Linked DNA regions of Homo sapiens: region 2 is linked to region 1. Evidence: fine-mapped QTL for protein levels in blood plasma. A gene starts in region 1. The other region holds a variant in brackets. All regions are shown on one strand. Distances are between the middles of the regions.

Region 1 (16,200 bases):
AGACCAACCTAGCCATGTGAAAACTAGCTTCCCTTCAGCACATAAATTAAGCTTACTGCTTTACTTAACTCTTCCACCCAACAATAATCTTTTGGAAATAGAGCAGGCTTGTGGCTTCCCGGTACATTCGTAAAAGAGACCCTCTGCCCACTGACATAAGAGACCCAGATACAACCCAATCCTACCAACATCCTTGCGAATTTTTGTGCAGCTGTAACATGCATACTACTGAAAATCAATTGAAATAATGAAGTTTGTGTATATATGTGTCTGTGTGTGTTTATTTCTTTTTCTATTTTCCCTGATAGGAAACAAGCATCAAAAACAATCATCAGGCCAGGCATAGTGGCTCATGCCTGTAATTACAACACTTTGGGAGACCAAGGCAGGAGGATCACTTGAAGCTAGGAGTTCAAGACCAGCCTGGGCAACATAGCAGGACCTCATCTCTAAAACAAACAAAACAACAAATTTAAAAATTAGCCTGATTGGTCACATGCACCTATAGTCGTAGCTTCTCAAAAGGCTGAGGCAGGAGGATTGCTTGAACTCAGGGGTTTGAGGCTGAAGTGAGCTATGGTTATGCCACTGCATTCCAGCCTGGGTGAAAGAGTGAGACCCTATCTCAGAGAAAAACCAAAAAATAAAAAATAATAATCACCACTATCACTGATTTTAGTGATTTTAGTGATTTTAGATTTAGATTTTAAATTTTAGAGATTTCAGTGACAGATAATTAGAATCAACTCAAAACTGTATTAACTATTTTCTATTCTTCAATTTTGATTACACTGTGTCAAGCATTGCATACATTTCTAAATATTGGGGGTTGGGAAAACTTTTCCATGGAAGTAAGTTTGTTTTCTAGATTTTTTTAGGTTAAAAGTCATATGGAATAAATTAAATCTGAGGCTGATCCATTTATCCATTTACTAGGACATGTAAAAGTATTAATAGATAAGCATGTAATCTATCATTCATATTGACATAATGTATAACATAAATACTGAGCATAAGATAAAAGGTTATCTTAGAATTCCATGCACATGTATTTGTGTCATTTAGTATTAGCATACTGGAATATTGTTGGAACAAGCTCCACTGTTGCTTTTGAATGTAAGGTCAAGCCCATTGTCTTAGAAAGCAGAACACAAAATATATTAACTGTGGAACTGCAGTTGGTAAGAATTCACTAGCATCAGAGTAACTGAGGATAAACACAAGCATACGCATAGAACACCGTTTTTTAAAAATGTATTTTGAATAGTTCCTCCTTCATAGACTTATTCTTACTGATTAGCTGTATCTCATAATTTTAAAAAATAGCAAATGTGTTTTATTTATTTAGTATGCACTTGTAAAGCTGTACTAGTCTTACAAGTTTTTTTCTTATGAGTTCAAGTAATTCTTGTACATGCATTAAATGAAAGCATGATCTTACAAAGAGATTTGTGTCACTGAATTTTTACTCAACCATGGATTTTTAAAAAATGTTTGATTGTTATTAAGGTAATAACTTCAATTCTCTATTTTTCTATACGCTTTTTGTCACGTCTTAATGGATGTTAAAGAGAAAAAAATTAGAAATTAAGTGTTTTAAAATAAATGATAAAGATGGCTGCTTATTTCTATTGTGGAAACACAACTTTGGATAAGTACTTAAATATATAACCCACTAAAGATAAGCACAGTTGGTTGAGAGTATGGATGGAAGAGGTCAAAACACACACCTGGATAGTTTGGCTCTGGTAGACTTTAATCACGTGAAAACTGAAACTGTAAATTCCTTTTCTTGGTGCTACAAAGACAGACTCCAATGTGAAAAAATTACCCACATTCACCAGGATCTACAAATAAAAATAATAAATAACAATAAGTTATTATATTTTCTTCTGTAACTAAAATGAATTTTCTTCCTCTCACTCTCTTCCTCTCCTCTTCCTTCTTTCCCTCCTTCCTTCATTCCTTCCTTCCTCTTTCTTTCTTTTCTTTTTTCTTTTGTTCATTCATTCATTCTTGGCAACTAGCTTAAGAAATCATAGAAAATAAAACATCTAGTTCTGTATCTTTCCTCTTAACTGATTTGGAAAATTGACTGGAATACTGGAAGGTTCTTCTGTCTTTTAAATGATATAAGAATAAATAAAGTAACTGCTTTGTATTCATGTCTCAATTTCCAGCAAGGCCCAATGGCTCTGGAAACATCGAGCTAACATTTGAGAACTTATAAATATTAGCTTTACCTTGAGAGTTGGATAAAAGGCACCCGCTATGTGTTTACATTCCCACCTTCTACAAGCCTTTGCAATGTCCAGAGGTGACGTTTCCAAGCCAGCCAATCAGCATCTGTGAGCTCTCCGCAGCATCCCTGGACAAACCACAGAGGCATGGGTACCCCCTCCACCATGTGACATAATCCTTGACACTGAACAGTTGGTGCACAAAGTGATCTGAATGCCTGGCCCTTCTCTGAGCCACCACCACCCCTCTCCTAAGATCTGTTACCATTTTTTTTTTCATTCCTGTGCCAGCTAGGCCTTAATTATAATAATGTGGCAATGAGTCAGCCCTTGTGGGCTGCCAAAGAGGAGAGCATAGAGAAGGCTAAACTATGAAATAGGTGGCTTTCCCTGTTCCTCCCCGGGCTGTCCATTAACCTCCTATCAATCACCTGCTCTTTATTTGAAGTTCAAGGTTCAAAAGTGAAATTAGATACTGTTTCCCAAGAAAGCAACAATGCATTTTGTATTCCAAAATATTCAGCCTAGTTCTATTGGTTATAAAATTAACTCTAAATTTTAATAAGTGACCTCTTAAGCTAAATTTGCAATGTCACATGGGTAAGTCTCTTTCTATGAGAAAGAGGGATTGGGATGGAGGATGGATGTTAAAATAACCAGGGTTTGTTCCATTTCTTTCCAAGAAATACACCTGTAAGTGGCATTCAAAAATAATAAGAGGTCCCTAAAAAGATATACTTCTCATATATCAATGGCAATCTGCTACTATCTCTTTCGAACACTGCATTCTTGCCAATATTAACACACTTGCAAGCCTCTTGCATAATTCCCTAAAAATGTACTATTACCTCTGGGCAACATACCAGAATGTAGTGACAGTCAAGCAGATGTATCAGGCTCAACACCTAACTTAAAACACATGTACGTGTATAATTTCATTCTGAGATTTCGCCTTCTTCCAAGTAAGCATCAGATTTTTTTTGTAACCTGATGATAGATGGTCTTTCAACAAGTCACCAGCTGTGCAATAATCCCCAGCAGAGGCTTTACAAAGAAATTTTTCAAGCACAATTAAAATAATTTGAGGTGCTTAGTGGTGACTTCCTGATTCAGATACAAGTAGCATAATTCATTAGCAATAATGAAAATAGCTGATTAGTGTTGGCTACATATAAAACTGGATGTTGACTCTACACTGTAATTGGAGCATCCAGGTACATCGAGATTTATAACCAAATGTGTGTTCTTGTCTCTAAGATGCAAGGCTCACTGAAAAGAAGAACAAACCCTTTTCCTCTTCTAATTGATGGAAAGGTCATTGAAAGGAACACCCTGTATAGAGGATAGTGCAATGCCCACAGTATTCCAACATTTAATTAAAGCATTGAAATACAAACTAGGGGTGGTGCTAGACTTTATTTCCATCAAGATGGAAAATACTGCACCAAAACCCCAAATGGAGCTACTTAATTCTTTAAAAATTATGTCTATCAAATACTAAGCCCCTAGAGAGGCATTCTCTGTCTTTGGCCAGCTGGAGAGTGCATTAGTTAGGAAAAATTAAGCAAGGAATACAGATGTCACCTCGTGCTTTCCCTGGCACATCCTGCAACACCACTTAACCTGTGCCCCCTGCACATTGCAGCTTTGCATACAACTGTGAACTGTGAATTTGGAATTTAAAAAGACTCTGGATACTGTTGGGGCTGAAATTAAAAACTCTGAGGACAGTTTTCTCCCTTAAGACCCCTTGCTAAAGGTAAGCTGATATCCTGGGGTTTCTCATCAAGCCAAACACGGAGCACCAGGTCGCTAAACAGCAGCTACAGCTTCCGTCAGCTCTTCCCCTACTCTCATCAACCTCAAAGTCTGTCTTTCCCCAGCTATTTGCAATTCTCTGAAAGGACATGAGCCCGGGAAGGGAGAACTGGCTCCCAAGCGCTTTCCTACAGGAGCTCAGCGCAGTTGCCAAATTCCTTTTCCTCCCCTCCTCCGCAACTTTTCTCTAAGTACCGGAGAAGGGCTTGCTGCCTACTCCGAGGCAGCGGCAGTGCCAGCGGTGCCTGGCACACGAACAGTGGAACCTGCAGGCGAGATCTGACCCCCGGCTCTGCCCCCGCCCTCCGCGGCCACCTGCCCGATCTCTGAAGAGTGTGGAAGCCCGGGGCTCTCTTGGGAGAGAAGCTTCTCTACCTGGGAGAAACAAATCAAACATTTATCCTGTTCCGCAAAGGTACCCAGGGAGCAGCCTCAGCGGCACCCGCAGAGGAGTCTGAGCAAGGGCACCAAGATCTGGCCAAGAGATAACGACGTCCAGGGACCAGGTGCCCTTCGGCTCCCGCCGACCTGTTGCTCGAAACTTGCCCTGAGCTCTCGCTGCCGGGCTCTGGGCTCCCAAGCCTCTCCCCCGCCGCCGCAGCAGCCTCTTTTAGGGGCCCGGAAGAAATGGGAGCCGGGGCTGGTGAGAGGGGTAGGAAGAGGGACGGTAGAAGTTTCAGACCCAGGCATATTTGGGAAGGCGAGTGCTTTACATGATTCCCCATTTCCCAATCGGACCAGCTTAGCCTGGGCAGGCAGCCTCGTGCTGAGGTGCCTGGAGACCGCCCACCCCCTAGGTGCTCGCTTCCCCCCGGGTCTGACCTGATCGAAGTAAATGATGCGCGTCTTGTTGCTCATCTCGGATGGCTCGTGGTTGGTGCTCCGCACCGCCGAGAAGGCGACCTTGGAGTTGGCCGCCCGGACCGATATCCCCAGCGGGGAGGAAGAGGAGCCCTTGGAGTCCGTGGCCGGGTTCGAGTCGCACACCACCAGACACTTGCCCTCCAGCACGATGGGCTCCGTGTCGTTCTGTGCCCAGACGGGCAGCCCCGGCAGCGTGAGGACCAGCAGCACGGCCGGCACCGCGGACAGCGCCCGGCGCCCGGAGCCCATGGTGAGCCGTGTGGGCAGCCGCAGCCGGCTGGCGCTGGTGCTCGCCCGCGTCGCCTCCTACCCCGGGATCCCGGTGCTCGGGAAGATGCTAGCGGCTAGGTCGACAGCGCTGCAGGAGCGACGGCGGCGGCGGCGCGCACACTTCCACCAATTCTGTGGCTTGAAGTCAAAGTCTCCCCTCGAGCTCTCTCGCTGGCTCTGTTACCTTTGTCCTTTAAGGAGCTCATGCAGCACCCTTTACCCTACTCTCCTCCGCCCAAGAATCAGCCCTGCCTGGGGCCCCTGCACCCACTCTGGTTCCTAGACATCTGAAAGTCATCAAACCCTCACATTCACACCTCAAGGCAAAAAATAATAATAATAATAAATTCTCACCCCAAACTCAAGCACCACCAGCTAAACCACGGAGCAGGAACAAAAAGAGGGGACTCAAAGAGAAGCCACAAGGGTGGCGGGTGCCCAGCGGCGCGGGTGCCAGTCCTGTCTGGCTTGCGGCAGGGACGAGTTACAGAGGCAGAAGGTCCTTCCCAGGCTGAGAAGAACGCGAGGCTGTGTTCATGGCCAGGACGCCAGCGACTCCCACTTTCGCCTGGTCAAAAAAATCCCCCAAACCTGGTGTCACCCAGAGGTAGGGAGGGAGGCAGCGGCTAGCCAGGTCCCTCGCACCGAAAGCGCGGATTCGCAGGATCAGGTCCAGGGCGCCGGGCGCAGCGTTCAGGGCGGCTGGTCCGGCGGGGTCCTCTCCTGCCTGGCCGCCCGCCCCCAGTCCCTGCGCACAACTTTCTCGTCCCTCGTGCAGCCCGGAGAGCGCGAAGCGGGCACACGCGCTCTATTTATAGGAGCGCAGCGTCCGGCTGGGTTGGCTTATCGCGCAACCCGCGGGCTCCGAGAAAAGGGGGAGAAGGCGTCTGGTGACCCCATCTGAGCAGCTCTCTCCTGACGTTTAACGCACCCCAAAGCAAGCGGGGCGCACAGCACTGGTGATTGGCAAGGTTCGAGGCCCCTCAGCCCCTGAAAGCCCGTGGCGTAAAGGATGCGTGCCCAGAGAGGAGCCCACGGCCCTGCGCTGGCCCCAGCTCCGCGCCCACTCTCTCCTGCTCGATCTGAGTCCGCAGAGGAGGCGGCTGGTCCCCTCACCCCTCCCAGCGCGGAACTCTGCCGCCGAGTGCCCTCCAAGCGGAGCGCGGCGCTGCCAGGCCGGGTCGCGAAAAAGGATAAGCCGCCGCGGACCCGCGCTGCGCGCTGCCCCGAACCTGGGGACCGGCGGGCGTCCCGACCGCGCCTGGCCGGGAGCCCGCCCCACACAGCCCTGGGGCCTGGCGAGCTCAGGGAAGCCTTGGGGCGGACCAGAGCCCGTGGGGGCGGCTGGGAGGAGGTGCCTGATTCCTTCCTTCCGCTCCGGGAAGATGAGCCTCAGAAGCCGCAGGGGCGCGCCTTCCCCCCACACCGCGAATCCTCCCCAGGCATGGCCAAAAAAAAGAGTGGGAGAGGGAGTTAACTCAGCAAGAATAAGTCCTCCGAAACCGTGCCAACAACAATAAAAAAATAAAAATAAAAATAAAAATAAAAGACAATCCCACTCCTAGGAATACAGCATTTTTCTCCCCTTTGGATGCGCTTTCCGCCCCCGTGCCACTCCACTGCTATCTTGGCCTCTGATTTGCAAGAGTTCCCTTCCTCTTCTGCAGCTACCACGGGGAAGGGAGGTTTGTCTCTGTCTGGACCCGGCTGCGTGAACTTGGCCGAGTCACTAACCCTCTCTGAGAGGGGGGCGCGGCGTTAACTAAGGTCCTCCCCACCCCCATCCCGCCAGCTTTCCAATTCTGTGATGCTGTGGGGTCATGGCGCCCCTTCCCCAATTTCTTCTACACTTCCAGCTGCCAGAGGGCAGACACGTATGGTATCTTTAACCAAAACAGTATCCCCTCCAGGCATTCGGAGCTCCTAAAATGGCATTGGCTAGTTATGAATGGAAGGGATGTTTATTGAGGGAGGTCCTTGGGATGGACGGCTCCCATTCCTTCCTGAGTGAAGGACGCCCTCATGAGCGTGGCATTCGAGCCCTCCACAAAACAAGGTGAACCTCGTCTCCAGCCTTTTTCCCTTCCTTCAGAAGGGCCGGGCATTGAGCTATAAGCACCAGCTCCAACTGTTAAAATTGAAGACACTACGAGGAATCCCCTAACCCTCACCTCCCTATAATCTCTCAACTAAAGTGTTAATACTTGGTGCCACAGGGGCCTTCAGATTCTGCTCCAGTGGGGCCAGTATCAGGTGTTTTGACTTTATGATTTTATTTTACTTGTGGTGGGGGGTGGTCTCGCTATATTGCCCAGGCTAGATGCAAAACTACTGGGCTCAAGCGATTCTACTACCTCAGCCTCCCCAGTAGCTGAGACTACAGGCCGGTGTCAGTTCCGGCTGGCAGGTGCTAGTACCATGCTATTTGTTAAAATGTTGAAAGTTACCTATCTAAGCTACAACCAAACAAGGTGAACTAGTGCCTTCTGAAGATGGCCACCATTTACCCAGCTTTGATGCCCCACCCTAAGCCCAGCACAATCTTCACCTGATCCCTCTCTGCACTTTGTAACTCTCTTCCAGATTTTAGGGATGTCTGCCTGGTTAACAGCAGCAATTTCTTCTCATTTGATGCAGTCTTTTGAGGGTGGGTGCTGAGTTGAATTTAGTTCCTTTTATTTCCTGTAGGGGTAAGCACCCTGCCTTCCTTGTCTGGGACAGCTGTTCAATAACTAGAACTTTGGTTGTTCAATTTCAGGCTGGGAGAAGTTTGACAAAAAAAAAAAAAAAAAAAAAAAAAAAACTGTGTTGAATTGTTAAATAGAAAATAAGCTATCTTCCTCACCAATTCCAATATATTCTCTCTACCTCCTTTTCTTCTCCAGGCACTTCCTGCACGCAAGAACTGAGATTTGAAGAAACCTATTCTTTCTCTCACCAAAAATATTCATTTTTAGTCCCAAAATCTGCATAGTGACCATAGTAAAGACTCAATAATTGAGAAATGACTGAATGCTTCCTAATAGAAGGTAATTATCACTCATATTATAGTATAAACTGCTTTAAATGAGTCTCTCTCAGTAAAATTTAAATTCAAAGCCTCCTTAATAATTGGGGATAAGGGTCTCGGTTCCTTACTAAAGGATGTTCTGCTCTTCAAAGTGTTCTGAAGATAAGGAACACAGCATTTTCTGTGGACCCCCGCTAAGAGAAGTTATCTTATATTGTGAATCAGAGGGTCCTGACTCTTTTTCCCACAACAGTTGATTAAACACGGATAGCCCCTGGGTTCTAGGACCATCAATGCATTTGATACCAGAAGTCCAAGATTTGTATGGTCCAACTTGGCCAGATGACTTGGGGCTGCCAGATTTTCTCTCTGCAATCTTAATGAGACATCAAAATAGCTTCCAGTAAGCACTACATGTGGCAGAGACAAGGTTTGTAGTCTCCCAAACTGACGTGGCCATGTAGGAGTCATCTGCAAGCTGAAGCAGAAGAGGTATTGGAATAAACCAGAGGACTGGCCACACTTGTAGAAAGAAGCCAATTCTGGAGCATGAGCACTTCTAAGAAGTACAGGGAGTGAATAGTCAATCGCCAGTTCTGAACTCTTGCTTACAAGAGTTCCAGAAACATTTTCTCCTAACCTTGGGTTTCTTGGTATCCTCCTATGTCTTTGAAATAAAAACCCAATTCCCTTGAGCTAGTTTTAGTAACATACCGCTCCCTGTCATCCAGAATCCTCATTAGAACATTGTCCCAGAAACCATACCACAAAAGGCTATGGATCTCTTGCCAAAAGACTAACAAATCCAATCTCCTGCCTGTAGGAAATGCTTTTCCAACATTTTGGGAAAGGAGGCATCACCTGTTCCTCACCCCCTACTTCAGCCCCAGCATCCCCAGGAGAAAAGAAACAAGATCAAGTTTAAGTTTCTCTCCAACCACAGCATAGATCTGTTTTTCTTTTTCTTTTTCTTGTATTTTTCCAGTTGAAAATATGCTATTAGAAGACCTAGCAGTGACCCAAATATTTTCCCTTTCTGAGATTCCCATATTGTATTTGATGCCTAGGATTTTTTTTTTCTCCTAGACCTTTAGAGATGACGCAGAAATGCATTTCAGTTCTCTGCAGCTGGGCTTAACTTTAAAGTAAATTAGAATCTAAACTATCCTTGCATAGGAAAGCAATACTTCTGAGGTCAGTAAATTCAATGACTGCTTGTCCAGCCATCCTTTAGAGAAACCAAGTTTCAAGCAAGCCCAAGACAGTAAGGATCTATGAGCTATTTTCTGACTGTGAAGAAAATGTTTCTGAGAAGGCAAAGACAGACACACACAAGGTATTCAGCTCTAAGGGCCTCACTGTGGTTGAATGAAAGCAGACTCCATGCATCATGCAGCAGAGACAGCCGCAGGTCAGTCGTGCAGAAGATGGAAAATCGAGAGAGAGAGAGCAGTGAGGCTTGCATCATACCCAGACAAAGTTCCACTGAGTTGCTTAATTACCCTTTGCTCTTTATAATGATAGTTATCAGCCCAAGCTAATGATCTTTTTTGAGGGAGAGTAAGTAGCTTAAGAAGAAAAAGTCTTGGTGGGACTGTAAACTAGTTCAACTATTGTGGAAGTCAGTGTGGCAATTCCTCAGGGATCTAGAACTAGAAATACCATTTGACCCAGCCATCCCATTACTGGGTATATACCCAAAGGATTATAAATCATGCTGCTATAAAGACACATGCACATGTATGTTTATTGCAGCACTATTCACAATAGCAAAGACTTGGAACCAACCCAAATGTCCATCAATGATAGACTGGATTAAGAAAATGTGGCACATATACACCATGGAATACTATGCAGCCATAAAAAAGGATGAGTTCATGTCCTTTGTAGGGACATGGATGAAGCTGGAAACCATCATTCTCAGCAAACTCTCTCAAGGACAGAAAACCAAACACCGCATGTTCTCACTCATAGCTGGGAATTGAACAATGAGAACACATGGACACAGGAAGGGGAACATCACACACCAGGGACTGTTGTGGGGTGGGGGGAGGTTGGAGGGATAGCATTAGGAGATATACCTGTTAAATGACGAGTTAATGGGTGCAGCACACCAACATGGCACATGTATACATATGTAACAAACCTGCGCGTTGTGCACATGTACCCTAAAACTTAAAGTATATTAGAAAAAAAGAAGAAGAAGAAAAAGTCTCCATGAACAACCAATATGTGAGAACTTACATAGTCTGGAAAGTTCCAGAGTCATGTTGAGTAAATCTTCATAGCTCCTTCTGGAGACAGCCAAATGACAGACTTGTTTCATATGAGGATGGTATTGTGGGAAAAAAATAGATGGATGCTGTAAAAAATACTTCTCAATTGGTTTTAGAATTTGAAAATTGTTTGGGACAGTTTTTCTAGATAGTTTATTCCACTCACCCCATTGGCAAATAAGGTACGTGTCTAAGACATCAGTGAGAAGTGAGACGTCTTGGTCATGGCTGCAGACAGGTTTTGATGCCCCTTTTTGGCTTCCCATGATACCCTGAGCATGTTCCAGTCATTATATTTATCATAATGGTTTTAGTTGATTTATTGTTGTGTTTTCCCTGGACCATTAACTCTTTGGGAGGACAGAATTTAGCAGAGAGTAGGTATGCATAAATAAAGTTTACTGAATAAAGTAACATCATTGCTTTTAGTTCTCATAAGGGAAACAATATAACATTTAATCACTATGATCTAAGTATGATAGGAAAAGTAAAATTATTTCAGAAATGTTGGGGGCTTAAAACGTCAAGTCCACCTTAGTTACTAAGAATGGAAGCCCAGTGAGAAAAGGTTTTGTGGAAAGGGCCACATCTTGAAATGTGTTGAGTTGAACCTTGAGACTGTAGTAAAATCTTAGAAAGAACCTAAAAAATTCTCTCTCTCTCTCTCTCCCTCCCTCCCTCTCCCTCTCTCTCTCCAGTCTCTCTCTCTCTCCCCGTCTCTCTCTTTCTCTCTCTCTCCCCCATCTCTCTCTTTCTCTCTCCCCACTGTCTCTCTCTCTCTCTCTCTCTCTCTCTCTCTCTCTCTCTCTCTCTGCTCTCTCTGTGTCCCTCCCTCTCTTCCCCTCTCCTGGGCACATCTTCATTATTCTTTGGCTCACTGCAATCTACCGTTCTCTGAGGCCCGCATGAGGGAAAATGGCAGCTGATACTTCCAGATTTCACACATAACAAAGCCATCCACTCAGAGATGCCCCCAGATCCCCGAGAAGAGATGCACTGCAGCCATCTGCGTTCAGATGCCCAATCCCAAACCAATCAACTTGGCTGTAGAAACAGAATCATGCTGCACACGTGACTGATATCCCAGCAATGAGGTGTGTAGAAAATTGGGGCGGGGCATGGGAAAAGGAAAAATCCTAGAAAGCTAATATAAGCAATATGTGGCAAAGGGAAGAAGAACAAGAGGCAGACTAATTTGTGTTGTGTGATTCCAAGTTAATTCCCTGCAAGTGTGTACAGATATGTGTGTATTTCAATACACAGAGAATACAAGTTGGCAACAACTTGTCAAATTTAAAGGAATTGAATAGAAGGAAACACTATTAATTGTATTTCAGATGTTTCCTTATTATATATGTGCTCACAGCAATTGTGTATTACATTGTGATTCACGTTTGAAAATTTTTTGTTTTTTGAGGTGCAGTCTCGCTCTGTTGCCCAGGCTGGAGTGCAGTGGCATGATCTTGGCTCACTGCAAGCTCCGCCTCCCGGGTTCACGCCATTCTCCTGCCTCAGTCTCCCAAGTAGCTGGGACTACAGGTGCCCACCACCACGCCCGGCTAATTTTTTTGTATTTTTAGTAGAGACGGGGTTTCACCATGTTAGCCAGGATGGTCTCGATCTCTTGACCTCATAATCCTCCTGCCTCGGCCTCCCAAAGTGTTGGGATTACAGGCGTGAGCCACCGCGCCCAGCCCACATTTAAAATATTTTTTAAAAAAGAAAGGGTTTCTGAGTAGATCATCCAATAGTGATCTATCACATTCACACTTCTTCTCCATAGTTTACTCTTAATTAAAGTTTAAAAAGTGGCATTGATTGAACAGCAATCTCCCTTTTTTGTTATACTGATCCGACTCTAAAAATCACTTACTCCAAGTTTAGAAAGATGCTCTGATATAGAAAGCCTCACAGTATACATTTAAGAAAAAAAATTCCATTGCAACTAGTAACACTGATGCATGCTGTCAAAATTTCTCGCTACATTTTATTCAACTTGGCTTTCTTTATATAGTATGTTAGCATCTAGGAAAGCCATAGCTCAGTGCTGGGTGTATGACATGTGCCTGGCCACTCGTGTTTATGTTGTGTAGATAAGAAGAGTCTAAATGTGGGGTCCAAACCAATGGCTACTTGTAAGAATCAGCTGGGATGCTTCTTTCCAACAGAGACTCTCTGGCCTTACTCTGAGATAATGGCTCTGCCCATGAACTGGGAAGGTTTACTTAACCAGCACCCAGGTAAATCTGAAGCAGATGGTGTTTGACTTTGTAGATGCCATTGGCGTGATGCCACAAGAGTCCATTTGCATTCGGGTTTTTTAGCTCTATGGTTAAAAACAGGGTGTTTAGAGTCAGCTCTACCTCCTACTAGCTTTATGACCATACAGCAAGTTACAAACCTTCCTTCATCCAAGAAAATTGCAATCATGAAAATCATATTCAGTCCATAGCTTCTTGTGAGAACTGAGTGGGGAAATTTGGGCAGAGCATTTAGCTCTGCACCTGGCACACAGGAAAGGCTCAATTAAGGGTAGCAATTATTATCATTAATCTGTAGACTCTACTAATGACTAAAGGTGTCAAACCACCACACTCTAAACCAAGGCCCATTAACTATTGGCAAGCAATGGCCCAACTTAACCTCACAGACATTATAATAGGGGAAAACGAAGTGTACCCAAGTGTGAGAGACAATCCAGGTTCAGATGCCCAGAAAATAATCACACCCGAGTTTGCAGGGCCAGCCATTGCTGATAGATCAATGCTTATCATTATGCAGAGCTAAAGCTCTTGAATGAAGCGAAGACACCAGGCATGTTTGTGAGCTCCCTACAGGGGATGAACAACAGGTTTAATTTTATTTTTATTTCTTTCTTCCCATACTCTCAATCATTATGTCTCATCTGAAAGAAGCATTGAGTGGAAATAGATGGATTCTTCAAAGTGGAAATTATACAGAAAGTCAAGAACAGCTGGTCAGAAACAGTCACCACAGAAACAGGAGTTCAGAAAGCCAGGTAGACACCAGAAAATAACACGGCAGTTGTTAAATATCCAGGAGCCAACACGGGCATCTTAGGAGCTAGTATGCCAACTATGGAGAGTCCTAGACACTTTTAACTTTCCTGACTTTAGCGCGTGTGGTTTGTGGGAAGAGAGAAAAATAGCTTCAGTCCAATAGGCAACTCTCCTCGCCAGGGCACTCAGTGAACATCTGTCCTTTGTAAGCGTGAGATGGGAAGTGCGGATCTGCTGTTGCTGCTCCATTCCTGCTGCCTCTCAGATATGAGCAGCTTGTGCCGTTGTGTGTGATTCTAGTGTTTAAAGGAAAGTATTTTCCTACAACATGACCACTAAAACAAGCCAACCACTTAATCTGATGTTCAGCTGAAGAAACAGCAATCTGTTTTGACACTGAAAGGAAAACTGGCTGCGGTGAGCTCTCTGAGAGCTGGTGTACCAGACACCATGGTGAGAACTTCAAAAGGATTTTCAAGGTAAGTTTGACTCTAGGAAATTTTTTCCTTGCGTACTAATTTTAGAATCTAACCCTGGAATGCAATGCAACTACATTTGTTTGTTTTGTTTTGTCTTGTTTTGTTTGGGGTAACCTCAATTGCTGATAATTTCTCCCACTGAATTCCCACCACTCATGTGAGAGGTAGATCTTGTTGCCACCATTTTACAGATAAGGAAATACAGCATCTGAAAAGCTGCTGCCAACAAACGGGTTAGACTTCATGGCTGGACATCTGTCTTATATCCAAAGGTCTTTCCCTAGACAATATGAGAAAAGTTGAAACAAAAATGCAAGGAGCTCCTAGAATGCTCAGAACTCATTATTTTGTAGTTGGTGACACCAAATTCAGAGGAGAAGCTGAGTGCATTCCAAGAAGAATTAATGTCAATAATGTGCAAGTGACAAAGTTCAGAGGAAGAAGACAGGCTTCATATCACAAAATTTTTAATAAAGGCTATTGACCATAAGCCAAGGTGGGGGAATATATGTTTTTATTACACTCACATGTATACATATTAAAATATTTAATATACTAAATATAATTAGATTATAATTAGATTTGATATATTAAATGTAATGAGATTATAATTTGATGATAAGTGGTTAAATTCTCCTACGCTCTTCTCATGGTTTTATGTGCCTTTCATTCCTAGTGGTTACCAGAGTTGAGATGTTACATTTATTTGTCTTATTTGACTGAAAGAATCTTCCCAGCCAATAATAAGCTCCATGAGGGCAGAGGTTGCCCAGGCTAGTCCCTGACACATGGTGCAGGTATATTAAGTGTTTGTTGAAGTAATGAATACGGTGACACCGCATAGATTCTAACTTTGGGTACCCTTTTCGAGTGTATTTCCAATTTTAACTAGACGGTCTCAAAAATTTGCTTATGTTTTCTCTAATTCTCAGTAATTATTTATGATGCATAATAACCCATCCTTCTTTACTTGGAAATTTAATGCACTTCTGGAAAAACTGCTGTAAGTAGCCCTTCCTTTCCCTGGATGCCCATTATCACAGCTGTTCCTTGTTTTCGCATTCCTCACACTGGGTTATGAGTATCTTAGCTTTGGCCAAGCTACCAGCTCAGCCACTTTCTTATCTACCACTGGGGTTAGCAGAGTAGCTCCTCTTTGCTAGGTTGTAGGCTCCATAAAGCAAAAGCTGCCCTGCTTTGTCCTTTGCTGCTAATTGGGGAACGGGGGGATTCCAGAAGCAAGCCTAATAGGGTGGGCCATGGCTTCGGAATCCACTAGCTTCCAGCTATTTTAGCTGGCCAAGAGCCTCCTGAATGACACACAATGCACCAAGTAACTTGACTTTCTTGGCCATCTGTCTGTTGGCTAAATAACTACCTCTTGGATGGACCAAATCATCACTTATGCAGCTGGTGTTTGGCAATTGACTGAGCTGAAGCCCTTCTGGGCTGGATCCAATATTCCCTTACTACACACACACAAAATGAATTTTATAGGGCTTTGTATGGGTTTGTAGTCTTCATAAGGCCAAATAGAGAAGAAAAACAAAATAATTGAGGAAAGAGATGGACTATGTTTTAGAGCTAATGGTTTTTAAGACCAGAGAAATTCTGCATTGCTCCCCTTTATTGCTTTTATTTTACTTTATTTTATTCTTTTTCTTTTCACCTTTCCGTGATTCCTCTGCTTTATGTCTTCTTTTCTACCTCCTTCCTATTTTTCTCCCTACAGTTCCCAGTTTTACACTCCAACTGATATTTAATTAGGACTTAGTATGTACTGGGTGAGCATAGCAAACTCAAATGCCATTGGGGACTATGGTGGGCATCTGCTATCCTTTTGGTCACCCAATGTCAGAAACTCCTTCCTACGTCTGCAGATTCTTCCTGCTCATTAGACAGAGCCCATCTCTCACTAAAGAAGCATCAAGTACCAGATACTCATTTTCCAGCTTCTCTTGCCATAAGAGGACAAGCACATGACCCAAGCTCTGCAAATTGGACACAACCACCCCAGAGGTTGAATTAGAGGCCTGAGAGGTGGCAGGAACCTCACAGAAACCTTGCTAGGGAAGGTGGCAGCAGGTTTCGTGGTCTGGGACAGGCACCAGCATCAAGCATCCAGGGTGAGTGATACGGGTGCAGCAGGCTGTGAGGTCTGTGCTACGCAGCCAAACCATCCGTCTTGGTGAACCTGGTGCTGCAGCAGGAGCTGGGGTGTCA
Region 2 (16,200 bases), 520 kb before region 1:
GTCTTAGAGTTAGAACAAATGCTTAATACCATCTACTCTGAGCTGTTTATTTTCCAGATTTAAAATCTATGGCCTGTATGTTAGGTGCCTCTGTTAACACATTCTAGGAGGTTGATGGAGGGCAACTGCAAGCCCTTAAGTTGAAGTTAATTCTAGTCCCCTCTGTGTTTCTCTTTGAGCCGTGCTGTCCAGTGTGGCAGCCACAGGCCACACAGGGCTTTTGAGTTCTTGAAATGTGGCTAGTTTGAGTTGAGATGTACTGTAAGTATAATGTACACATCAAATTTCAAAGACTTAGCATCTGGCTGGGTGCTATGGCTCATGCCTGTAATCCCAGCACTTTGGGAGGCTGAGGCCGGCAGATTACTTGCGGCCAAAAGTTTGAGATCAGCCTGGCCAACATGGCAAAACCCTGTCTCCACTAAAAATACAAAATTTAGCCAGGCCTGGGGGCATGCGCCTGTAATCCCAGCTACTCGGGAGGCTGAGGCAGGAGAATCACCTGAACCCGGGAGTTGGAGGTTGCAGTGAGCTGAGATCATGCCACTGCATTCCAGCCTAGGTGACAGTGAGACTCGACCTAAAATAAAAAAAAGACTTAGCATCAAAGAAAAAAAAAGAACAATATCATTAATTCTTTTTTCTGATTACATATTGGAATGACAATATTTGGGATGTATTAGGTTAAATAAAATATATTAAAATTAGTTTCTACATTTTACTATTTTAAAAAACGCAACTACCAGAAAATTTAAGTAACATCTATGGCTCACATCTAATTTCTTTTTTATTTTTTATTTTATTTTTCTGAGACAGAGTTTTGTTCTTGTTCCTCAGGCTGGAGTGCAATGGCGCAATCTTTGCTCATTGCAACCTCCATCTCCCGGGTTCAAGCAATTCTTTTGCCTCAGCCTCCCGAGTAGTTGCGATTACAGGCATGTGCCACCACGCGTGGCTAATTTTGTATTTTTAATAGAGACAGGGTTTCACCATGTTGGTCAGGCTGGCCTCAAACTCCTGACCTTGGGTGATCTGCCAGCCTCTGCCTCCCAAAGTGCTGGGATTACAGGCATGAGCCACTGCGCCCGGCTTTCACATCTAATTTCTATTGGACAGTTTTAACTTAGATTTCCTATGACAAAGTAAGTAAGGTAACCAGAAACACAAAAAGATTGACAGTCATGTAAAAGTTAAAAAGATGTGGTCAGAAATAAAGGGAGAGAGGGATCATGGAATAAACGGGTGTGAATTGGTGTAGTCAGGTATGAAATCCTAAATATGTTCTCAATAAGGGGCTACTAGCTCATCTTTTAGAAACATGGAAAATTCACTGAAGGAAAGGGAATGGAAGCATCTCATTCAGTGTTTTCAGGGGCAAGACCTCAACATTTAGAGGCTACCAGCTGTTCTCCTTTCGAGGTGTCTTTCTTATTCTATAGGGAAAAAAAACTATTACATATATGTTATAAGCCCTGAATTGCATGCTGACAAATAGGTTTCTCTATAGCTTAAGGATATAGGCAAAATTTTAGTAAAGGTAAGTTATTTTTACCTGAGACATGCCTAATAATGGTATATATTTTCATATATTTTCTCTTTTTTAAATCATACAGCAAAATAACTTTTTGTATGTCTTCTAATACACACACTTATAGGTAATAGCAGCAGACTTAGTAAATGTGATACTGTAGATTGGGCCACTCACTGCTCAATACAGAGTTTCTTGTGTATAGTTATAGCTAATAGTTTTCATTTTTGATGGAGATTTGTCAGATTTGTGTGTGGAGGTGGGTTGGGGGCGGTTAGAGACAAGGTCTTACTCTGTTGCCCAGATTGGAGTAGAGGGGTGTGATCATAGCTCACTGCAGCCTCAAACTCCTGGGCTTAAGCAATCTTCCTGTCTCAGCCTCCCAAGTAGCTAGGACTACAGGCATGAGCCACCACACCTGGCTGATTATTTTTTCTTTTGTTGTTGTTATTTTTTTTGGTAGGGATAGGATCTCACTCTGTTGCCCCGTCTAGCCTTCACTCTTGGCCTCAAACAATCCTCTTGATTCAGCCTCCAAAATATTTCTATCAGGTTTAAGATGGAAATGGAAATGCCTACCATTACTCATTTTGCATTGCAATAAATAAGCTTCATTACCAGTGGAAGCTTATTAATTTCTTTGTGGAAATGCATTCCTTGCTGATTAATTTCCCCTTTCCTTCATTTTTAAACTGCAAAAGATTTGTTTCAAAACCCAAAGATTAGGTATATTTCATTCTTTATTGAGCAAGTAACAAAAGAAAATACATTCACATTATTCAGGAAGCAATCATGAAGATACTTTATAGCTCATTTGTATCAATATCAAACTAATTTAATGACAAGTCAAACATCATGCCCTTTAATCATGGAAAACTGTAAGGTATTTCAGCTGAATAAATTAAGAGCAATTAACAAAAAAATGAGCTACACACATGAAGCTCATTATTTTAGGTTGAGGGATCCTTTCAATTTACCGGGATTATTTTCTTTGATGTGCCAGATGCCTGTTTTGCCCAACAAAAATCAAAACACTCCAAAGCATAAAAGTATGTACCCCATGTGTTGTTTAAGATGGACTTGATAACTAACATTGGACATTAACATTTGCAGCTATTATTCCTTGGTGAATAAATATTCCTTGTCCAAAGGAAAGATAGAAATATTCAAAATAATAAAATAAAACAAATCGGATTCAACTGTACAATTCATGCTGGAAAATTAGCTAAGATTAGGAAGAAAGAGGTTGAACATTGGTCACAAGTTGTCTGATAAAAGGCACAGATAAATGACATGCTGCTAGTCTTTTGTATTAGACAAAGAGAAACATGTTTCATACATCTGCTTGCTTTGAGCAGAAATCTTTTCTAAGCGTGTATAAATTTTCTAAAATTTTTCATAAAATATGTAAATATTTAGTAACACTGCCTCAGTGTTCCAATGGTTATACCAATGATATTTTTCAATGTTGGTTTTTAATGCGCCTATTAAAGGAAATTCAGGTAATTACTATCTTTTTCTTTTGCCAATGAATGAGATCAATAGCATGGATAATCCAAAACAGTGGGTGAATTTAAAAATAAATTGGATTCTACGGTGCACCATACTCTTGGTCATGTTTATACACATGGATTAGTGTTATGTGTATATGTGTTGAAATGAAACATCTTATATGTACACGTTAAAGTGTTTGCATTTCCTGAGATGTGACAATCAATCATTGTAAGGACAGAAATCTTGGAAACATTTTGGGTAACTAATATGTGTCTGCCATTTATTCAGATTTTCCAAAAATATTCTTGGAGCATCTTTTACCATTATAGGCTATTAGGATGTAGTCATGATTAAAATAGTCTACTTGAATTATATCCAGAAGGTAGAGCTGTTAAAATTATAAATAATCATCATGACAATGTTAGATTCTTAGAATACATAGAGCAGCAATGGCATTATTTCCCAACATAAGCCCCAGTTGGGACAGCCTCTCTGAGGAAGTGATTTTGTTTTTCTTAACTGTTTATTTTGAAAACATGTCAAATCTACAGAAAAGCTGCAAAAATGGTATAATGAACTCCCATATTTCCTCCACTTTGCTTAACCAATTGCTAACATTTTGCCCTCTTCTGTATGTCTCTATCTCAATTTTGTTGTGAACCAATTAAGAGTTACAGGCATCTTGACCCTTCTAAATCCTTCAGCCTGTGTTTGCTAAGAACAGTGCCATTTGGAGCATCACCATGACACAATATTACATTTAAGGCATTTAACATTAATACAAAACTAGAATCTCAAAGCAATCCATATTCTAAATTTGCCAATTGACCCAGAACTGTCCTTTTTAACAGGAGGAAGTGAATTTGACTAATAACCAAATGTTGAGCCCGACATAGCCTCATAAAAGGGATTTATGGGAATCAAGAAAGAAGGAACAGAAAATCCAAAGACATCTACATATTTGTATACATTTATTTTAAAAAGCATAGACCTAGCCAATATTCTTGGGATAATATTAACAATAAAATGTGGCTTGAAATAGGCTAATTAAAAATGTTTAGTGTAAAATTACATGTAATAACCTTGTAAAAATTGATACTCACATATTATTTCTATTTGGTTTTCCTCCATTTTACCCATGTACTCTTTATTTGCTTCTTGATAAAGTCAGTTAAAGCAATCTGCCACATAGCTCCATGTGTGAGATTTAGGAAAATTGTTGCCTGCAGAATTTCAAATATGGATATGAGGCATTTGGAAGCAATTTCTGATAAGAGAGTACCATAAATTGCTACCCTAAAGTACATTGGTCACATTACCCAACCAAATGTTTTTACTTAAACAAGATTCAGAGGGAGGAGGGATGTATTCACCACAAAACTTAATGGACTACAGTGCCATTACTTATTAAATAGACCTATTTATATGAAAAATGAACACTTAATGTATACATGCAGATAATGTAATCCCCTTTATCTTATCTATATACATGGAAGATTCTTATTACCATCAATCTGGTGGTCCCTTTTTGCTCATTCCATTTGCTTGAGAACTGTGTCTGGATTAATAATGAGTATATTTCCCAAAATGAGCATAGACAGAAGGCAAACTGGCCCTTTCCCAAGGACAAAGATAATCTCTCTAGGACTTTCAGAGGGACCAAAAGTCAGTTGGCCCTCATTGGGATCATGGAAAGTTTTTAACATCCTTCGTGTCCAGCAGAGGAACAGCCTGAATGTCTGGTTCTTTCTAACCTTTTAAAATGATAAAATAAATCCAAAGTATTATAGGCCATCTGGTACTTACAAGGCAACGTCTCCAGATAAGTCTGAGCAAAGGGCAGGCATATTACTCCCCTTGGGAGAGCATTTTGGTTATATTCATTCTATTTCTCTTGCTTGATCATGACCAAAGATATCACAAAAACCTCCTCTACTGATACAGTCCCCTTTTTTCACTCTTGAAATTGTCGTTATTCTTAATTATTGTCTAGATTACATATTTTTTAAAATTATCAAAATAAAAGCAAAGGTGATGATAACTCTAAAAGATATGTCACATACATATTTTAAATCTTACAGACATTTATTGCAGCATTGTAAAAACCTACAAAATGCCCAAAAGACCAACAAGAATAGAATGAGTAAATAAATTAACTTAATAAATATTAGCGAGATTAGTCATATTAAAGGGGAACACAGATGATACACACCTATGCCAAAGGAGGGCCATGATTTACAGAGTGAGGGGGAAAGAATACAACAAAACAAAAACCAGATAGCCAATTGCAAAATTAGAGTAGTCCTTTATTTTAAAAAGAAAACAAGCACTGTATGTGCTTATGTGTGTGCCAGTGCATGGTTATTTATATGTATGTATACACGTGTATGTGTGTATAGGTCTGTCTGTGTATAAATGAAGGAAGTCTGGACAGACACCAGCTAAGCTGTTGAGAGGAGTTCTCTAACCTGAATATGCCACTTAAAAAATAAAAAGCTGTATTAGTCTATTCTCACACTGCTATAAAGAACTGCCGAAGACTGGGTAATTAATAAAGAAAAGAGGTTTAACTGACTCACAGTTCCGCGTGGCTGGGGAGGCCTTAGGAAACTTAGAATCATGGCAGAAGGCACCTCTTCACGGGACAGCAAGAGAGAGAATGAGTGCCGAGCAAAGAGGGGAAAGCCCCTTATAAAACCATCAGATCTCATGAGAACTCACTGTCACAAGAACAGCATGGGGGTAACTGCCCCCATGATTCAATTACCTCCCACCAGGTCCCTCCCATGACATGTGGGGATTATGGGAACTATAATTCAAGATGAGATTTGGGTGGGGACACAGCCAAACCGTATCACAGAGATGTAATCGTAAGGTGATAATATGATTTGGCTCTGTGTCTCCACCCAAATCTCATGTCCAGTCGTAATCTCCATTGTTGGAGGTGGGGCCTGGTGGGAGGTGATTGGATCATGGGGGCAGTTGCTAACGGTTTAGCACTGTCCCTGTAGTGCTGTTTCATGATATAGTTCTCAGAAGTTCTGGTTGTTTAAAAGTGGCACTGCTCCCCTCTCTCTCCTGCTCCAGTCATACGAGACGTACCTGCTTACCATTCGCCTTCTGCCATGATTGTAAATTTCCTGAGGCTTCCCCAGCCATGCTTTCTGTACAGCCTGTGGAACCATTAGCCAATTAAGCCTCTTGTCTTTATAAATTACCCAGTCTTGGGTATTTCTTTATAGCAGTGCGAGAATGGACTAGTACAGTTAGTATAAAGAGCTGGCAGTTCAGCAAGTACCCAGTCTAGCCCCGTGTTCTTGGAACATGTGCCTTATTAAATAGGCAGTGAAAATTGAATCCAGATTAAGCTCCCTGAGTCTTTTAAGAAATGGTAATTTGGCCAATTATTTAATTTAAATTAAACAAAAACAGCACAATACCACCCACCTACTTTCCTCTTAAACATTTGGATATTTTAGCACAGAAAATCTGAGATGATTTAATTACCTCACTTGCATGTTGTTGACAACTGAAGATGAGATGACATTCATTTAAATTCTAAGCTTAATTTATTCCAGGCCATGTTTTTACCAATTTTCATTAATGGTAATGTAAGAAAAGGTTCAAAACTTATAAACTAGATTTTCACAAAACTAATTTTGAGTTGAAAGTTGGAGTATAATCTCATCATTGGGTTACTGGAGAGTAGGGCAAAGAGAAAGACACTGACTAGTTGTGACTATTATTCTTTTTTGTACCACTTTTTCTGTGGATACTTGTGTAGTTAAGTATGACTTCTAAGGTTGCCTTCTGCTGCCTTTTGGTTGTTTTCCAAAGCTTAGAACAGGACAAGAGGAGTCCTTATGATAGGAATCCTATTCTAAGTAAAGTTCTCACCAGCTGTGCGGACATTATGACCCTGGAGGTTCTGCCAGAGGTAGTTCATTGCTCACATATTACTTGCATAAGATTCTAGCTACATGAAGGGCTGGTAGATCAGGCTATTGGAGGGAGAACAGTAGCTGTGCTGTGTATTTTATAACCGCACACCACAATGGAAAAATAAAATAAGGTGCGTCTTTTTTACCTTCAGCCAACTGAGACGAAGATTTTCTTAAAAGGACCATTTTGGGAACTAGACCTATGCCCTCCTTAAGTTTGGGGAACACAGGAGTTAGTATCTGATGTTCAATGGAAGAATCTAAAGAGGAAGGGAGAGGGTAATAGAGCAAAGAGAACAAGGTGCATTGCAAGCTGACTGTACCTTCATTAAATGTAGAGCAAGAGAGTGTGGACCAGACATTGCCTGCCATGCCCGAAGGGAGCTGTTCCAGGGCTGTCTTCGAAGAGACCCAGCCAATGAGGCAGGAGAATGGCGTGAACCCAGGAGGCGGAGCTTGCAGTGAGCCGAGATCGCGCCACTGCACTCCAGCCTGGGCAGCAGAGCGAGACTCTGTCTCAAAAAATTAAAATTAAAATTAAAATTAAAAAATAGAAGAGACCCAGCCAAGAGGACCAGTGTCCACCGAGGAAGAAGTCCAGTTGATGATAAAGAAGGCATTGTTCTTGTCAAGTGAACAAGTTTGGACACTCCAGAAGGACCCCTCTAAGAGATTTAAGAATACCCTAGAAATTGGTCCTCCACTCGGATGAGATGATGGTCCAAAGCCAGATTACAACAGTTCCTTCATTGACATGGTGCTTTTCTTCACCAAAGGAGTGCACAAGACACCTTTCTGAAGATTTCACAATACTTAAAAAAAAAAATGAACTCTCCTCAGAGTGTCTTTTATAAATGTATGAGGTAGAATAAAAAATTAAATAAGCAGTAGAAACTTATTTAAGACAGTTCCACTCTGGCAAGACCTTTATTTTTCTTATTACTCCTCTCTCCTCCATGCACCCAACCCTATAGCAACCATACGTAGCTGCTGGTGAGGAGGAAGGGACCCTGAGGAAGAAGGAAGAACCCAGTCTACAAGTGAATGGAGAGAGAGAAGAGTTAAGATTGCTGAAGGACTGGTGGTTTA[C/G]TATAGCACGGATGGAGCTTTTTATTTACCAAAATGACTCTTCTTCTAACTGAAGGAACATTAAAAAAATGACGTGTTTTGCAAAAGACTTAATCCAGGATAGAAAAGGGGATAGCACAGAAGAGGAGTTTGAAGGAGCAGAAGAAAAAAAGAATAAAATTATTTTCTGTTCACACTCTGCCAAGTCCAGTTCCTTCAATCCATAGATTATAAATTACTGTTTTAAATGAGTTTCTACCGCTACATTTATAAAAAACTCTGAGCAAGTCTTCATTTTTTTTTTTTAAGTGTCGTGAAATCTTTCAGAAAGATGTCTTCTGCGCTCCTTTGGCAAACAAAAGCACAATATCAATGAGGGCATCTCTTCTACAAGGAAAAGTCATGTTAAAAAAAGGACTGCATCGGCAGACATTCGGGACACTATTAAACCCGTAATTCCTTCTATTATGAATAGGAATTATGTGTGAACATCAAAAGAAAAACGAATTCTGCCTGGCATGCTATCATTTGCTATTGAGAGATTCTGGACTTTAATCATAAACCTTGAAAAGAGGCCATCACACCATTCACAAAGGGGAACCTTGGTCTGGACCGTTCAACAGAGTTAGAAATGATACCTGTGTTACTTGAAAGAATCAAACAAAAGAGCCTCCAATTAGCAAGCATTCCATTTTGCATTTTAGTATATGTATTTGTGTATTACCCCAAAAGCAAGTCATATACATAGATGTCAGAATTTGCAAACTCACAGCCCCAGGGATCACTGTTTGCCAGAATGGTGTTTTGTTTTTGTTTTTTACTCATGTTGTTTCTGTTTTATGACATTTTTTTATTGAGGTGTAATTAACATTCAATGCCAGATATATTTAAAAAGTAGAATTTGATAGAATTCTGTGTATGTGTATGCCTGCAAAATCATCACCACAGTCAGGATAGTGAACATATCCATCACCTCCAAATGTATCCTCATGCCTCTCTGTATTAGCTCTCTCCTACCTAAGCAACCCTCAGTCTGTTTCCTATCACTGTAGGTTAGTTCTCTCTAAAGGTTTATAAAAATTGCATCATACAGGATGTATTATTTTTTGTTCTCTTTCACGGAATATAATTATGTTGTAATCCATCAGGTTTTAGCAGGTATTAATAGTTCATTTCTGTTTATTACTGAGTAGTATATCATTGTATAGATATACCACAATTTGTTTACCATACCTATTGATGGATTTGTGGGTTATTTCTATTACTTGACTACTGCAAATTGTTTCTCTGAATATTTGTGCACAAATGTTTGTATGAAAAGAAGTTTAATTGGCTTATGGTTCCACAGGCTGTACAGAATAGCATTACCTAAGAGAGAATAATGTGTACATTTTTCTCTCTTAGGTAAATACCTAAGAGTAGAATGGCTAGATCGTATGATAGGTATATTTAGGCTTTTAAGAAACTGTTAAACTGTGTTTCCAAAGTGGTCGTGACCTTCTAATTTCTAATCACCATTTTATTAGTGTTCTAATTCCTTCACATACTTATTGTTTGGTATTGTCAATTTTTAAACTTCAACTATTGTAATAGGTTGTAGTGGTACTCATTGGGGTTTTAATTCACATTAATAATAATATTGAACATCCTTTGATGTGCTAATTTACCATCTGTATATCTTTGGTGAAATCTGTTCAAATCTTTTGTCTGTCGAGTTCTTTCTTTTCTTACTGAGTTTGGAGAGTTCTTTATATGTTTTGGACACACGTACTTTATCAGATAGGTGCCAGTCGTTTTGTTTTCTTCATGTAGTCTTTTGAAGAGCGGAAGTTTTTAATTTTGAAGTCAAATTTATCACTTTTTCTTTAACGGGTTTTCCATGTTCCTGCCTTTTGGAGATTACTATTTGTTAAGCATGCCCAATGCTTTGAAAAATATTGCATTAAGTATTATCTCTGCCCAGGTTTTTTTTTTTTTTTTTTTTTTTTGTTGTTTCAAGGGGGTATAGTGAATCCAGTTTCTATTACATTTTAGCCAGCTGCAGAAGGTTGGTTGTTACTTTAAGTTTTTCTGGCCAATATTTAACAATACACAGACATATAAATATCTACATAATTAGATTCCCTTGAAAATTATCTGGCCATGCAGTGGTCACATCCCTGCACAAAACAGGCTGGAACAGTGTGACCTGCAGTTTGGTTACCTATTTTCCCCATTAAACTTAATGAGTCCACTGGTAGAAAATGATATTAATGGCAACATGGTTACTCAGCTTCTCTATGTACCCAAATATAACCGTTTATCTAGGTAAATTGCATGGGCAAAGAGTTTTAGTCATTTCATTAAAAAATCATCCCTTACTATTAAATGGAAAAAAAAAAAGCACATCTGATTAGAAATGGTGAAAACTATTACCTTTATTTGCAAAGAAAGGAAGAATGGACATTTTTAGTACCAGGCATATTAGTACCAGGTATTTTAACACACAATATTCAGTAAAACCAATGCATTCAAGTCCTAAAGCAATGCTATGATTAATTCATTAAAATACATATTTATTAGCACACAATGCACAAGAGGAACTGCCTGATGACGGAGGTGGGCATATAGAGTGTTCGGATATAATTATCATCTCACAGGTGCAGCCTCCCGGCAATTCTGGAAGACTTGCAGCCTGTTCTTGCAAGCCCTGTTCTTCCAGGCTTGGGAGCTGGTTAACTTATGAAAAATATAATTATTCTTTTCAATGGAAATTGCCTGAGGGTGATACAGATTGGACATATCAGCCTTCATTCTAATTTGGTAGTTTTGCGAGTATTATCCAATTGCTTCTGAGACAGGTCAAGCTATCTCCTCTGGATGTGTGGACAGAAATACTTTCTCTATTTAATTCCTATGAGGTGGTTTTGTAACTACTCCCACTTATTGTTCAGCCTGGTTACTGTGCCAGGACTGATGAGAGGTATAAAATAAACAACAAGCAACTCTTAAAGATCAAGCCAATTTGGACTTAGGGCCTGGCACGGAATTAAGTCATAGTAAACTAGAATGAAGCTGAAGCTTCACGGGCTTTTAGGGCTGAATAGACTTTTTTTTACAGGCACAGAATTATGTATGTCAAAGAGTTCATTTAAGGTCAGAAATAGGTCTTTGCATTCAGTCTTAGCCTTGTATATATGATCAGTAGTCTCTTCCTCACCCTGCCGGTCTCTTTCAACACAAGGGCAGCTCATACTAGTCCTTATAAGCAGGTAAGAGATTGAGTTTTATCCTAAAGTAGTAGAAAGCCATGAATGGTGGTGCCTGCATGTGGCTTGATCAGACTGTGTCTTGAAAATATCCCTCTAACTCCCAGACTCAGGTTTTACATGTGTTAAGAAAAAAAACAATTAATCATAGCACAGGTGTAGTTATAAGCACTAAATAAGAGAATTCATGTAAAAAGCCTAGCATATTGCCTGTTTGTAACCTAGACCCACAACAAATCTTGATTGTAAATATTGAAGCATGTATATCTTTGCTTCTTTACTCACTCCTTCACTACACTGCAGTTCCATGAGAACAGAGAACACATCTAACTTAGCTGACTATAAAATCCAAGTGCCTAGCACAGAGAAGGAAATGAGTAAACACTGCCTGAAGGAGTGGATAAATGGATATATGTGAACATCCAGAAAATATGCTGGGAGACTTTCTTTCATTGAACTCATCGCAATCTTATGCGCGTGTGAATATTTGATTAAGGTCTGGATCCTGCACTTGACTATAGGCCCATAGAGGCAAACATTGTGTTTTTCCTGCTCACTCATTGCTGCTTTCTGAGCATCTAGGGGTGTCTGGTACATAGCTTTTGATTGTAAGTATTTGTAGAATAAATTAATATAGTGGGTGCCCCTGTTTTACCGGGGGATGCACATAGTCTTTTAAGTGGTAATTGAGTAGTTATCTTGATAAACGTCTATCTCCTCCCCTAGTGCGTAAGTTCACTGAGGGTGGGATCCACTTGTTTTGACCAGCCCTCCAGTGCCCAACACAGCACCTGTAGCATAGAAAATATCTAATATATATTATGGACTGGATAACATAGTTCCCAAATGAAAGATAAGTAACATGCTCAATTAATTTCATATTCAGGAAGAGTTTTGGAAAGAATTTATGTTCCATTGACTATTTTATTTTATTTTTGGAACAAAATATTGAACAATCTGGAGGTGAAAAAAAAATTATTCTTTGAAAATTCACACTTTTGAGAAATCTCAAGAGGCCCTTCTTTCCCCTTGGTATTAAACAAGGCCAATGATATTACCAAGCTGAAGCTAAACTGGCATGAATTATTCAGAGCAGCAGGAAAAGCAGCTGCTCATCCTCTCTGTCCATAATTTTGAAGGGTGGAGAATTGGAGGGCAGCACTGACAACAACAGGGGGGAAGAAAAGATAAATTGTTGCCCTAAACCTCATAAGCTACAACATCTGCAGCACTATGTTTAATTTGGAAGCAGAGTCCACAGTGTCTGCCATAGGTAACAAGGACAAAAAATGGTAGAAAGCTTATGAATGTGTGCTTGGATAGCAGGAGAGAGAGAGACTGAGGAAAACCAGGAGGGAAAGGAAGAGAAGGGAATGGGGAGAGACAGAGGAGGAAGAGACAAGGAGAGACAGCCATCCACCCTAGAAGGCAGGAGGAAAAATTTGAGTTGAGGAACTTCAGGGAAATATAAAATTTAGAGATGGGTATAAGAAAAATATTTTCAAATTAAAATGTGCTATAAAATTAAAAGAAAAAGATCTGGCTTTAAGCCTGGCTGCAGTGGCTCATGCCTATGATTTCAGCACTTTGGGAGGCTGAGGTGGGAGGATCACCTGAGGTCAGAAGTTCAAGACCAGCCTGGCCAACATGGTGAAACCCCAGCTCTATTAAAAATACAAAAATTAGCCAAGCATGGTGGCATGCACCTGTAGTCCCAGCTACTCGGGAGGCTGAGGCCGGAGATTCACTTGAACCCGAGAGACAGAGGTTAACTGAGCCAAAATTGCGCCATTGCCCTTTAGCCTGGGCCACAGAGCAAGACTCCATCTTTAAAAAAAAAAAAAAAGGGGGGGGGAGGGGAAGATCTAGCTTTGAACTGAAGAAATTCCCTGCCTCCTAGATCATTTCTACCTCTTTGACACAGAGGATGTTTTTGAGTATTTTAGAGATCTTGGGGTCCAGCAGAGTGGAAGACAGGAAGGTGCTATGGGAGAGAGGAAGGGGTAGGGAAGTTGTGGCTGCGACTATAAATATTGGGAATTTTAGAACTAGGATGCACTTTAGAGGTCCCACCATATGGTCCTGGGTTGTAGAATTTGAGACATGTCCGATTTTCTTCTTGATTAAAATGACTTTTAGATGATGGATATATTGATCTATATAAAACAATCTAGGACCTACAAAGTTGTATTTAAATCAACCTGAAAACTTTCTGACCACATCATCTGCTGCCCTTTGTTGAAATTCAAGAGCAGACTGTCAGTCAGTAATGGGAATAGAGCCGAACATGAAATACAGTGCTTTTTGGTGGAGAAGGGGCATGTGATCAGTGTCTCTGTAGAGACAGCACTGTGAGGTTAAGAAACCAAGTAAGGCCCATGCAGCCTTTCATAAAAGAAAATGTGAAATAAAAAGAGGACCTACAAGGCATGAATCCTATTACATTGGTTGAAAACAATTTAAAGACAAAATTAGAAGTCACCCTTTTTTGACAACCCATAAACACATACTTACATGCATATAAACATATGTATATACACACATTAAACATTGATAGAATTTCTCTTTTTAAAGCAGTGGTTTTCAATCAGAAATGGTTTTCCTCTCAAGGAACATTAGACAGTGTCTGAAGACATTTTTGGTTGTCACAAATGAGTAGGGAGAGGTGTTATTGGCGTTGGGTGGGGACACGCTAAGGATACCATCAACATCCCATAGTGCACAGGACAACAGGAATGGCCTGGCCCCCAGTGTCAGAAGGGGAGAAGTTGAGAAACACTCAAGGAAGAGGAATAACAGAGAAATTATCTTAGTAAAATAGCAGAAACTGTCATTATTGTGCCAAAGCCTTGTGTTTGAGTCTTTATGACCTGCATGACTAATTCTCAAAACATTCCTTAAAAGGTCATTGTTAGCATTTGCTTAAAGGGAAAGGAAATCTAGGAGAGGTTAATTATCCAAAGCCACTTTGCTCTAAGGAGGAAATACAGAATAGCAATTCAGGTTGGTTGTACTCACACAGCTGGCCTCAAATCCCTCATAAGGAAGGTGCTATCTTTGCAAAGAAAACTACTTTGATAAAAGAGGTGAATTTTAATGAATAGGCCTCAGGTAAAGATAGAGGCGAATCCATAGGAAAAAAAAAAAACTTGATTTGAACTGCAGAACAAAATAAGTAATACTTTTTCTCTCTATAAAAATACAGTAAAATAGATTTTTTCTCCCTTCCAGTTTGGCTGAGGCAAAGAGACAATATGGAAAGTACCTTTATATTCCAAAGTGATATTCCAAAAGTCAAACTTACAAACTTACAGGTAGTTGGAAACCACTTTTGTGTATCCTGTTCCAGCTGTAACTGAAGCTTGAATGGCTGAGACAGAAGAGTTGGAGAGGAGAGGAGGATTTTAGAGAGAGCCATAGGTATACCGTGAGTCTTGTCACCCCAACTAGGAAGGCATGGAATACTTTTCTGTCACCTCAATCCTAGCGAAAGAGGTGGAGGCTTCATGTGTTTTTGAGCTTGTGGGACAAAGGAGGCTGCTGTTGCAACTAGGCCTGAGAAATGTGAAAGGATCATGTCTCTGCACAGTTAGCCACTTGGCCTTACAGTTGCTGTGAAGGAATGGCCTTTGATCCCCAGGTTTGCCACAACAAAAGTGCATGAATGCTCACTGGTCAACATGGGTGGCATCTCAGTGACAGAGAAGGACCTTGGGTTGTCTTGCATCCTAACCAGGAGTGTTACCTGGATAGATGGCTCATACTCAACTGAAAGGCTGAATGACCAGAGGTTGATGGAGGAATCCTGAGCTGATTATTATCTGAGACTATTGGAGCTAGAGATGATGAAAAAGCTGGAGCCAAACCTCTAATGTCTCAGAAGAGACCAAAAAAGGAAACAGAACTCTCCTCACGTGTTGGGTGGTACTCATATCCACTATGTTCTAATCTAATGGGTCTGAGACTTTGCTGGCCTCTGGATTAACTAAATACAACAATTAATTGACAATCAAGATCTGATTATTATTTTTTGAGACAGAGTCTCGCTCTGTCACCAGGCTGGAGTGCAGTGGCACAATCTTGGCTTACTGCAATCTCAGCCTCCCCGGTTCAAGCGATTCTCCTGTCTCAGCCTCCTGAGTAGCTGGGACTACAGGCACACATGACCACACCCAGCTAATTTTTGTATTTTTAGTAGAGTTGGGGTTTCACCATGTTAGCCAGGATGGTCTTGATCTCTTGACCTCGTGAGCTGCCTGCCTTGGTCTCCCAAAGTGCTGGGATTACAGGCGTGAGCCACCGCGCCAGGCCAAGATCTGATTATTTAAAAAATGTGGGTCCTATTCTGAAGGACTTTCAAATTTAATAAGAGGGAAAAAAATCTGATCACCAACCATTGACTAAGGCAAATGGTCTAACATTCAAAAATTAAAATTCTCACTTTAAATTGTTATTTTTACAGCTTTATTGTGGTATAAGTGACATATAAAAACTGCATGTACTTAATATATACAATTTGATGAGTTTGGATATATGCATACACCAGTGATACCACCATCATAATAAAGGTAATAAACTATCCATTACCTTCACAAATTTTCTTCTGTACCTTTATAATTTTTGTGGTAAGAACATTTAGCATGAGATCTACTCTCTTAACTGTTTTTATTTCTTTTATTCTTAATTTTGTGGGTACAGTTTTTAAGTGTACAATGCAGCAGTTAATTACAGACACTATGTTGTTCAGCAGATCTTTAGAACTTACTTTGTATGACTATAACTTGATAACTATTTAACAATTTTCTATTTCTCCCTCTCCCCCATGCCCTGGAAACCACCATTCTATTTTCTGCTTCTATAAGTTCAACTATTTAATATACTTTATGCAAATAAAATCATGAGGTATTTTTTCCTCTGTGAC

Alleles and levels. Positions count from the first base shown, and alleles are read on the strand shown. Strength reflects both the effect of a copy and how common the allele is.
For the plasma level of the protein whose gene starts at base 6,519 in region 1, G is the low allele of the variant in region 2 and C is the other (weak association).

Evidence for each region. A credible set is the group of variants that fine-mapping cannot tell apart. PIP is the chance, under the fine-mapping model, that this variant and not a neighbour inherited with it causes the effect. The UK Biobank Pharma Proteomics Project read protein levels with antibody pairs (Olink). The fine-mapping took linkage between variants from a reference panel, not from the people measured, so its PIPs are less certain.
Region 2: its variant is the best candidate, but not a certain one, in a credible set for the plasma level of the CBLN4 protein (UK Biobank, PIP 0.51).

What each region holds. Positions count from the first base shown.
Region 1 is chr20:55,999,001-56,015,200 of GRCh38, forward strand. CBLN4 (cerebellin 4 precursor) reads right to left here and starts at 6,519. Exons shown (of 3, transcript NM_080617.6): 1 at 4,881-6,519; 2 at 1,731-1,847. The coding sequence starts at 5,171.
Region 2 is chr20:55,474,578-55,490,777 of GRCh38, forward strand. No RefSeq gene overlaps it. Among named protein-coding and RNA genes, the nearest start is that of LINC01441, 55 kb to the left of the region's middle. The variant C/G (reference allele first, on the strand shown) is at 8,053.